Linked DNA regions of Homo sapiens: all the other regions are linked to region 4. Evidence: fine-mapped expression QTL. A gene starts in region 4. Each other region holds a variant in brackets. All regions are shown on one strand. Distances are from middle to middle.

Region 1 (2,500 bases), 33 kb after region 4:
CATAGTGGCCCTGTTTAACTTAACCTAGAACCAAGTTTATCAAGTTAGTTACCAAGTTTACTCGTTAGTTAAAACTAACTAGAGTACTTCTCTAGTTAGTTTTCCAAGGTAGAATATCATTATTCTTGTCAATTTCCATCTTTTTTCTTTCCTTTCTGTTTTAACCCAGTGGTTATATTGTAAAGGTGATAGAACCTGTGGAAGAAAGAGGTAAACAAGTCTTTGTACATTTTGATGTGTTTAATTGTGGAGTAAGTTAATAAACAATTTTCTGAAATTTAAATCTGCAGAAATTAAGTTGTTAATTTTTACTTTTTAGTTTTCAATATCCAAGCCAACTGTATGTGTTTGTTTATGGTAACTGGTGATTAAAAAAAATTTTTTGTTGTTGTGCCTTCTTCAGCCTCTCCACAAAGGAGTGTCGATCAGAGAAGTACTTCAGCTCCCTCTGCTTCTGTAGGCTTGGCACCGGTTGTCAATGGAGAATCCAATAGCCTCACATCATCTGTTCCTTATCCTACTGCTTCTCTAGTATCTCAGAATGAGAGTGAAAACGAAGGCCACCTCAATCCATCTGAAAAACTCCAGTAAAACATTTATAATCATTGTTTACATGAAGTTAAATAATAGGGATAAATTCTGTTTTTTTTTTTATGTTGAAAATTCTGCAAAACGAGATTTATTTAATATTGTTGTAAACATTCTTAAGGGATAGGTAGAAGAGGCGTGTGTGTGTTGTGTGGGCATAATTTGAGTTGTCTAAGAGATGTGATGTAACATAGTTTCTGTGAACTGATGTTACTTTCTTGTTTTTCAAATAAAGGATCAAAAATAAGATTACAGTTAAAATATTTCTATATTCAGATGGTTTAGAGACCAGGCTGTAGAATCAGACAGCCCTGAAATTGTATCACACAAGGCTGTGTTACCCTGTACAAATAACTTAGCCTTACTAAGCCTGTATTTCCTCATCTGCAAAATAGGGATGATAATATACCTGTTGATAAATATGTTTTCATTAAAAAACGTTGGCGCAGTTCCTGGCACTTACAGTAAGAACTCAGCTAACTTAATTTTTATTTTTGGTAAACGTAGTATGTAGTGTATAGATCTCATATGTGCAGACAAATCAAGAACCTTCCATACATGCTCAGTAATGTCTGTATACCTGATTTTCCTGAGAGGTAGTATTTAGTAGTACTTCACACTTTTGATACTTGAGAAACTAGAAATCTTTTTGACATCAGGTTTTCTGCTATTAACATTTACACCTGCTTAAAATGAACAATTAAATTGAAATTGGTTTTCTTACACTTTTGTCCCTAAAACAGCATAAGAAAATAATGTGAGATTTTGAGTAAGCTGTACTTGGCATTAACCTCATTATTTTACAGTCATACCCCCTGGAGAGTTCACTAGGTGGATATTCCATTAGGTCTAAATTTTGTTTCTGTTAGCTGCTATGATATGAAAATAATGTCTGTATTATTTTGCTAAAATGGGTGTAAATC[G/T]TATACATAAATTTTTTGTTTATCAGGAAGTTAAATGAAGTTCGAAAGAGATTGAATGAGCTAAGAGAATTAGTTCATTATTATGAACAAACGTCAGACATGATGACAGATGCTGTGAATGAAAACAGGAAAGATGAAGAAACTGAAGAGTCAGAATATGATTCTGAGCATGAAAATTCCGAGCCTGTTACTAACATTCGGTAAGAACTTTTCTGGGGATGTTTTTCCAGCATATTCATTCTGTCTTGATACTTATAATGTGGGAACAAAAATACTTCGTTGTAGTATTTACTATTTGCCTTTTATTTAAGCTTTCTACTATTTTGGTCAGTGTAATCATCTCTGCCCTGTGAAGAAAGATGAATAGGGAAGTATGGAGTACAATAGTTCAGTAAATTTGCCCTTTGTTAGACTGAATTCGAGTAAATCATGAGATGTATCTAACTTAGCATTTTGCTGTCTTTTTCTTTTTAGGCGTAATTTTCATTTTTTCAGATGTTTTTCTACTTAAATAGCACATATGCAGAAGTTAATGAAAAGCAGGAGTCGATTATTCAATTTGAATTTAAATGGAATAGCCAACAATGTGCTTGGTTTGGTGTTATTTTATTAGCAGTTCTAAACTTGGATTTCTTTCTCTCTTTTTTTGTGCCTTAAATGACTTCAGGCTGTTTTCTTTCTTCTAGAAATCCACAAGTAGCTTCCACTTGGAATGAAGTAAATAGTCATAGTAATGCACAGTGTGTTTCTAATAATAGAGATGGGCGAACAGTTAATTCTAATTGTGAAATTAACAACAGATCTGCTGCCAACATAAGGGCTCTAAACATGCCTCCTTCTTTAGGTATGACTGACTGTATTTACATATAATTTTGCTGTGTTATTCTTACAAAGTGGGTTTTCGTTCATGTGTGCTCTTTCCTTTAAAAGTTACTGGTTTTAATTATACATGTTTTCAGCAGATTGTCGATATAATAGAGAAGGGGAAC
Region 2 (2,500 bases), 74 kb after region 4:
GGTTCTCTGTTCTGTTCTGTCGGTCTGTGTTTCTGTTGTTTGTATGCCAGTACCACGCTGTTTTGGTTACTATAGCTCTGTGGTATAATTTGAAGGCAGGTTAATGTGATTCTTCCAGTTTTGTTCTTTTTGCTCAAGATAGCTTTGGCTGTTCTGAGCTTTTTTTGTGGTTCCTATAAATTTTAGGATTCTTTTTTCTCTGTGAAGAATGTCATTGGTATTTTGATCACAATTGTATTGAATCTGTAGATTGCTTCGGGGAGTACAGACATTTTAACAATATTGATTTTTCCAATCCATGAACATGGAATATCTTTCCCTTTTTGTGTCTTTTTAAATTTCTTTCATCAGTGTTTTATAGTTTTCATTGTAGAGATCTTTCACTTATTTGGTTAATTCTTAGGTATTTAATTTTATTTGTGTCTGTTGTAAATGAGATTACTGGTGGCATATAGAAATGCTACTGATTTTTGTGTGTTGACTTTGTATCCTGCAACTTTACTGAATTTGTTGATCAGTTCTAATAGTATTCTTGTGGAGTCTTTAGGCTTTTCCAAGTATAAGATTATATATATATCATATACAAACAAGGATAATTTGATTCTTCCTTTCCAGTTTGGATCCCCTCTATTTCTTTCTCTTGTCTGATTACTCTAGCTAGGACTTCCAGTACTATGTTGAATAACAGTGGTGAAAGTGGACATCCTTGTTGTGTTCCAGATCACAAAGGAATGGCTTTCAGTGTTTCCCCATTTAGTATGATACTAGCTGTGGGTCTGTTGTATATGGCTTCTAGTATGTTGAGGTATGTTTCTTCTATACCCAGTTTTTTGAGGGCTTTTATCATGAAAGGATGTTGAATTTTATCAAATGGTTTTTCAGCATCAGTTAAAATGATCATATGGGTTTTGTCCTTCATTCTGTTGATATGATGTATTACATTGATTGATTTACCTATGTTGAACCATCCTTGCATCCCTGGGATAAATCCCACTTGGTCACGATGGATCATCTTTTTAATGTGTTGTTGAATTCCGAGGTATCGGTTGTAATGTCTCCTTTTTCATCTCTGATATTATTTGGGTTTTTTGTCTTTTTTTCTTAGTCTGGTTAATGGTTTGCCAATTTTATGTATCTTTTAAAATACCAACTTTTTGTTTCGTTGCTCTTTTGTATTTTATTTCAATTTCATTTATTTCTGCTTTGATCTTTATTATTTCTTCTATTTTGGGTTTGGTTTGCTCATGCTTTTCTTGTTTTTTAACATCCATTGTTTTCGTATCTGTTATATGTATGTTTTTGGATTTCAGGTTACCATGAGGATTGCAAATACTGTCTTATAACTCAGTATTTTAAACCGATAACACTGATTGCATAAACAAACAAGCAAACAAAATGAAAACTTATGCAAATGTTAACTTTGTTTCCCTGCTTTTTAACTCTTTGTTGTTTCTCTTTATATCTTACTGTACCATGTCTTGAAAA[G/C]TTGTTGTAGCTACTATTTTTGGTTGGTTCATCATTTTGTCTTTCCACTTAAGAGTAGTTTACACACCACAATTACAGTGTTATAATATTCTGTGTACTTTCTATTACTGGTGAATTTTGTACCTTCAGACGATATCTTACTGCTCATTAATGTCTTCTTTTAGATGGAAATAAAGTATTTAGTATTTCTTGTCAGACAGGTCTGGTGTTGATGAAATCCCTCAGCTTTTGTCTGGGAAAGTATTTCTCCTTCGTGTTTGAAGGATATTTTTGCTGGATGTACTATTCTAGGGTAAAAGTTTTCTTCCTTCAGCACTTGAAACATGTCATGACACTCTCTCCTGACCTGTAAGGATTCTAGTGACAAGTCTACTGCCAGATATATTGGAACCCCATTATATGTTATTTGTTTCTTTTCTCTTGCTGCTTTTAGGGTCCTTTCTTTATCCTTGATGTTTGGCAGTTTGATTATTAAATGCCTTGAGATAGTCTTATTTGGATTAAACTATCCTGGTTTTCTGTAACCTTCTTGTACTTGAATGTTGTTAAGCTTACTACCTCTGTCTCTCTCTACCCCCTCTTTAAGGCCAATAACTTAGATTTGTCCTGTTGAGGTTATTTTGCAGATCCTGTAGGTGTGCTTTATTGTGTTTTACTTTTTTTTTCTTTTGTCTCCTCAAGTTGTGTGTTTTCAAAGAGCCTGTCTTCAAGCTAATTCTTTAGCTTGATCAATTCTATTGAGAGATTGATGCATTCTTTAGTATGTCAGTTGCGTTTTTCAACTCTAGAATTTCTGCTTGATTCTTTTAAATTATCTCAATCTGTTTATTAAATTTATCTATGAATATAGAATTCTGAATTCCCGGCCAGGTGCTATGGCTCACACCTGTGATCCCAGCACTTTGGGAGGCTGGGGCGGGTGATCACTTGAGGTCAGGAGTTTGAGACCAGCCTGGCCAACACGGTGAAACCCCGCCTCTACTACAACATACAAAAAAAAAAAAAAAGTAGCTGG
Region 3 (2,764 bases), 110 kb after region 4:
GTTAGAATGCTTTTGGTTTTAACCTACAATTCCTTACCAGGAAATATTTGGACAGTATTATAATAAAGCAACAAAGAGATAGGGTTTCTATGACATTTGGAAATGTACAATGCAAAAAAAAACCCAAAAACCCTGCTGTTCTTCATTTTCCTATCTGTGAAATGCAGGAAGAATTATCCTAGATCCAAGGATGCTTTTAGTATTTTCAAAGGAAGACTTACGAAAAGAATTAAAAATGGAAATTAGTGAATGAGCAATTATACAAATAATTATCGGTGTTTATTGAAGTCCCAGCGAATAAGAAAGTGAAAAACCATAGTAACTCTTTATTTTATAACAAAAATGGGATTAAATTACAAGGATTCAGGTGACCCCAACTTTTGTCCATTTTCTATGACTTGGGAGGCTTCTGGACTTCTCTTTGGCATGGTGGCACTGCCTGAAAAAAAAAAAACAGGGACTTCTTGTTCCTCAAGTCTTTTTGGGGCATGTTACTTAGTCGACAACACAGAAGAAGGATACTACAATAAACTGTTTTTCTTCCCACTCCTAGGCTTTGAAAAACTAGTCAGTTATTGTAGTCCATTCTCCAACCTTAAACAACTAAATGATACTTTAAGTTAGTTTGCCACCCTTGGCGTTAGAGTCTTTCTGTATGGTAAGATTCAAAAAATTCATATGGAAGTATGTTAAGGTTTATGTTAAGGTTCACATAGATACTAGATATTGACGTGTTAAAACGGAGTTGTTGGTTGCCCCACATCTGATTGTTCTAGTCTTCTCATCTTAGTACGTGCCAGTTCCATCCTTCTACTTTCTTAGGACAAACCCCTTGACATTGTCTGTGGCTCAACTCTGTATCCCAAACCCTTCATCCAACCCTTCAGTAAATATGGTCAGCTACACCTTTAAAAAGTAAGTCGAATCCAGCTGGTTTTCACTACCTCTTCCACTGCCATCTTTATTCAAGTCACTCTTATCTCTTGCCTCGATTCCTGTAGTAGCCTCCTAATGGCCAGACCCGTCACTTCCTAGACTTTCTATAATCTAGTCTCAGCACAGCAACCAAAGTGATACTGTTCAGATGATACCAGTAGCTTCCTATTTTATTCCAAGTAAAAGCAAAAATGACTTCAGAAGGCCCTACAGGACAATTCTCTAC[C/T]TCTTCCTTTCTTATTTTCCGTGTGCTTCAGTCACACTGACCTCTTTGCTGTTCAGACCTGCCAGGCATCATTGCATGCAGGGCCTTTTGCATTTACTGTTACCTCTACTTAGAATGTTCTTTCCTCAGATATTTTTATGGCAGACGTTTAGTGAATCTTCTTTATGTATCCAACCTAAAATTGCACCTCCCCACAGTTTATTTTTATCTTCTTGCCCTCAGCTTATTTTTCTCCATATTACTTATCCACAGTTAACAATATTTTACTTATTTTATGTCTTTCTCCACCCCCTCAGTTAGAATGTAAGCTCTTTAAGGGTAGGAATTTTTCTCTGCTTTGTTCACTGCAATATTTCTTGTCTTTAAGCAGATCCTGGAATGTAGAAATTTTTCAATATCTGTTACATAAACAAGTAAATTTGAGTATTTCGAAGAGAGATTCAAGGTCATCAGTATGTTTTACTAAGAAGGATTGGACATCTTATTTAACTATGGCAAATGGATTCTTCTCCACTTCAACAGTTTTAACAAAAACAGTGGAATATTCCTATAATAGTACTTTTCAGAGAGAAAAGTTTCAGCTGAGGAAAATGAAATATATGCTTATCTATTCCAAGTCTGCTAATAGGTAAGTCATATTAGTTGATTGATATAATTTGAAATTAACATGAAATTTAAGTTTAAAATGCAGTGAATCTAATGATAACATACAACAATAGATTTTAAAGTAATCATTGGAAAACCTTCAGAAAAACTAGGCTGTTAGTCAAATTGAAGAATATCTCCTAAGGGTTTCTGGAAAGAGACCCCTGCCCTAATTTCCCACTAAAAGGTCCAGAAAAATTGATGCCACCTGTAGTTTGGCAACGTGCACTAAAAAGTTCAAGGTACCGTCTTTGGCATAGCAATTTAATTGCTAGAAATCCTAACAATAAATATCTTAAGCTCTAAGAATCTTTATATATATAAAATATATGGATAATCATTCTTTGTCCTACATATTTAAGCTCTATCATCTATTTTAAGTAATTTTTTTTTGGTATGGTATGAGGTAAGGATCAGGTTCTATTTTTCTCCTATATAGAAATCCAGTGCCTTCATTTGTTCAAAGGACTTTTCCTACTGTCTTGTTACCTTTGTGGAAATCAATTGACCATATATGTGTGGCTCTATGTCTGGAATTTCTGTTATGTTCTGTTGATTTATATGTCTATTGTTACATCAGTATTACACTGTCTTGACTACTATAGCTTTATAGTAAGTCTTGAAATTAAGAAACGTAAGTCCTTGCTTGATGACTTGGGATACAGAAAAAAAAATCTCCTCTGAGCTGTTCTAACACTCAATAAAGTTTGTCTTCATCTTGCTCCCCCAAAAAAAAAAAAAAAAAAAAAAAAAAAGAAAGAAAAAGAAACGTTAAGTCCTCTAACTTTGTTCTTTTGCAGACATTTTTGGCTATGTTCTTTTCATTTTCATGTTTTGCATTTTCAATTTCAGTTTTCACAAACCAAAAACCTGCTGGGAGTTTTATTAGAATTGCATTGAACTTATAATTTGGAGGAAATGGAAATGGAAACAATATTGAGTTTTCCAATCCATGAA
Region 4 (2,764 bases):
GCATAAAACAAACTCTGAGAACATTTTTTAAAAAATCCTTTCAAGGTAGGCAGTATCATTCCTTCCCCCTCATTTCATAGATGGGGCAATTAAGGCTCAGAAAGGCACGTCGCTTGTCCAGGATCTTGGAGTGGTGGAATTAGGATAGGGCATTCTGGACTACAATAAACACCTGAGCGTTTAGCTGCTGTGTTCTGAGCTCCCACAGCACTTTTTCTTACAACACAAACTTTATTTACATCACACTCCACTTCCGCATCCTTCACTAAAATATGAGCTCTTCAAGGGCAGGGACTATATTTTTGCTACCGCAGTAGTTAGCGATACACACACAGAATATGAGGAAAAAGTGTCTGACCAACGATCAATGCACTCACGACTGAACCTACGGTGGCAGATTGCAGTGGGATAGAAGAGCTTTATGTGAATTGCGTACTGAGATGCAGACCTACTATTTTGGGAACAATTTGTTTTTGTTGTTGAAACCCAGAATGCAATTCTTCTTTTTACCTTTATTTTGCTTAAAAAGTTATTCCATAATTATAAACTGCGTAAAACTAGAAGAATGCCCTTGCACTCAACTAAAACTGACAGGTGTTTTACCTTTCCAGTCAGGCACATTGAAGGCCTTGTGACTTTATTGATTTTTGTTTTTTAAAGGGAGGACCTGCCAATTTATTAATCTTAATAGAGCTGTAACAGGAGAGTATAAATAAAAAGATAGTTCAGAGAAAATTTACTGAAATTAAGTTTGGATTAAAATCATCTGGCTCTTTTAAGGAAAAGGGACATTAACCAAAAGTGGCGTTAACTATCAACAATATTTATGATTCTCTCACTCAGTAGATACATAATGACGTCTGGCAAATTGTTTAACTTCCGTGGAACAATCCCCTCATATGTAAAATCAGGAGGTTGGACTACATTGTAAGTGTCCTTTTGTTTCCACCTCTTCGTGACCGAATGTGGGGTGAGGAAGGGGCAAAAAAGCGATCCCGGTCTTGGCTCCTTCTTCCGGCACGGGCCGGAGCTGACACCCCCACGGAAAACCGCACAGCGCCTCCGCTCTTTCTCCACGGGCTGAGGGATCAATGCACTTCCGCATAGGCCTAGGGCCCCACGCTCCGCGATCAGCGCCGGAAGCGCACGGCATGCTGGGATTTGTAGTCCTCCACCTGTGGCCGGCAGGCGTTTAGAACGCGAGGTCTAGTTGGCATTCTGGGATACATAGTTCCTGGGCGGGTGGGGGCGGATTCGTTGGTGTAATCTCTTTTCGGCTTAAAGAGCCAGAAGCGACACCACAGACTCCGGCGGGTCACATGACTCCAGTCTAGCTCGCATTGCGGCTCCCGCCCGGGCGAGTTCTCGCCCCCGCGCGGCCGTTGCCGAGGAGACGGCGCATGTCCCGCCGCGCGTTGCCCCCTCTGCAGTACCCCCGCCCCTCTTCTCCCACCACAATGAGATCCTAAGATGGCGGTGGCTGCGGCGGTTGGCGCTGCGTAGCTGAGGTCGAAAAGGCGGCCACTGGGGCCGAGGCAGCCAGGAAACGTGTGGGCCTCTCTGCTGCGGTCTCCGAGGGCCGACCGCTGCCGGCGGCGGGTCGTGGGGGCTGACTGTCGCTCTGCCTTTGACAGGAGAGGCTGCTTCTTGTAGAGGTAATGCCTGCGCGTCCCCAGCCCTTGGCAACCTAGGGCGGCGCGCCCCAGAGGCGGGAGAGTAACGGCTCCGGGACACTCGGCCCTGTTGGGTCTGGCCACGGGCCCACGCCTCCTCTGTAGGTTCCCGGGTCTTCCTGCCCCGGGCTTCCCGTGCCCTAGGCGGTCAGTCCGCCCGCTCCCTCAGGACTGATCGCCGGGATCCCCGGGTGAGCACCTCGCGACGCGTTGGTGATTGCAGGACTCCCTTCTTGCCTCCTCGCCCCTCCTGCTGGCCCTGTCGGGGAGGCTGTTCTGCGTCCCGGTGGCTCCGGCTATACCCCTTGCGGGCGGAGGAAGCGGAGCGGGGACTCTGGTTTGGGTGCTAGGGGCACTGGGTCGAGTTCTTAGAGAAACAGGCCTTGGTGGCCATAGTTCTTCCCCGCGTTCCCTCTGTGGAACTCTCGGTGTCCAGAGTTTGGGGTGTAGAAGGGCGGATGAGGAGCGACGCGACTCTGAAGAGTTGCAGTTGGGCTGTGAGCTGCAGGATTTCCGCCGTCTCTGGTGCTGTGGGAGCCGATGGGCCGGGGGAGGCGTTCCTGGGAAGGTTAATGGAGTAATTATTGCCCCTTCTTTCTCCCTTCCTACCTATCTAGTTAGAATTGGGCCTAGAACCGGGAAAGACTAAATGCCAAGTGGGACTGGGGGAAACGTTGTTTGGTTTACAGAAACTGGCGTTTGGGGATTAGGCCCCGCCAGGGAGGCTGGGCGCGCCAACTTTGCATCCCTCAGCCTACTCCCCAGGAACTCGCCTGGTTTAATTTTTTTTGTTTTGTTTTGTTTTTTTGAGCGAGTTGAGGTCTGTATTGTGTGTCTTACGGGTGACGGTTCGTGTTTGGGCGCTGGAAGGAGCGGGCTTTCTGGGCGCCCCTACCACCCCCGCCCCATAACCGCTTTCCAGACTCCGCCTGCTGGTGTTCTCTGGTTACCGGAGTGGGTGTTGCAGAGCCTCGGGTGCACCTGCTCCTTTCTTTCCCTAGCACCTTCCTGGTGAGGACCCCTGAACACCAATATAATACAGAGTTTTTGAATTGAAGGTAAACCTGGTATTTATGTAGTGACGAGGTTAT

What was found. PIP is the estimated chance that this variant, and not a neighbour inherited with it, causes the effect.
Region 1: its variant is fine-mapped to the expression of PCM1 in whole blood (TOPMed, PIP above 0.99). The same link has a PIP of 0.9 or more in gastroesophageal junction, tibial nerve and visceral fat.
Region 2: its variant is fine-mapped to the expression of PCM1 in whole blood (INTERVAL, PIP 0.91).
Region 3: its variant is fine-mapped to the expression of PCM1 in whole blood (TOPMed, PIP 0.96).

The regions. Positions count from the first base shown.
Region 1 is chr8:17,955,067-17,957,566 of GRCh38, forward strand. It overlaps PCM1 (pericentriolar material 1), which reads left to right. Exons shown (of 39, transcript NM_006197.4): 10 at 404-587; 11 at 1,538-1,711; 12 at 2,198-2,355; 13 at 2,474-2,500. Among named protein-coding and RNA genes, the nearest start is that of PCM1, 33 kb to the left of the region's middle. The variant G/T (reference allele first, on the strand shown) is at 1,512.
Region 2 is chr8:17,995,395-17,997,894 of GRCh38, forward strand. The region is part of intron 29 of PCM1 (pericentriolar material 1); the gene reads left to right. Among named protein-coding and RNA genes, the nearest start is that of PCM1, 74 kb to the left of the region's middle. The variant G/C (reference allele first, on the strand shown) is at 1,486.
Region 3 is chr8:18,033,728-18,036,491 of GRCh38, forward strand. LOC124901894 (a long non-coding RNA gene) reads right to left here. Exons shown (of 2, transcript XR_007060836.1): 2 at 261-439. Among named protein-coding and RNA genes, the nearest start is that of ASAH1, 49 kb to the right of the region's middle. The variant C/T (reference allele first, on the strand shown) is at 1,163.
Region 4 is chr8:17,921,534-17,924,297 of GRCh38, forward strand. It overlaps PCM1 (pericentriolar material 1), which reads left to right and starts at 1,455. Exons shown (of 39, transcript NM_006197.4): 1 at 1,455-1,655. LOC124901867 reads right to left here. Exons shown (of 4, transcript XM_047422505.1): 2 at 2,624-2,694; 3 at 1,976-2,233; 4 at 1-1,813. The coding sequence ends at 1,131. RefSeq lists enhancers at 823-1,272, 2,423-2,482 and a silencer at 1,667-1,961.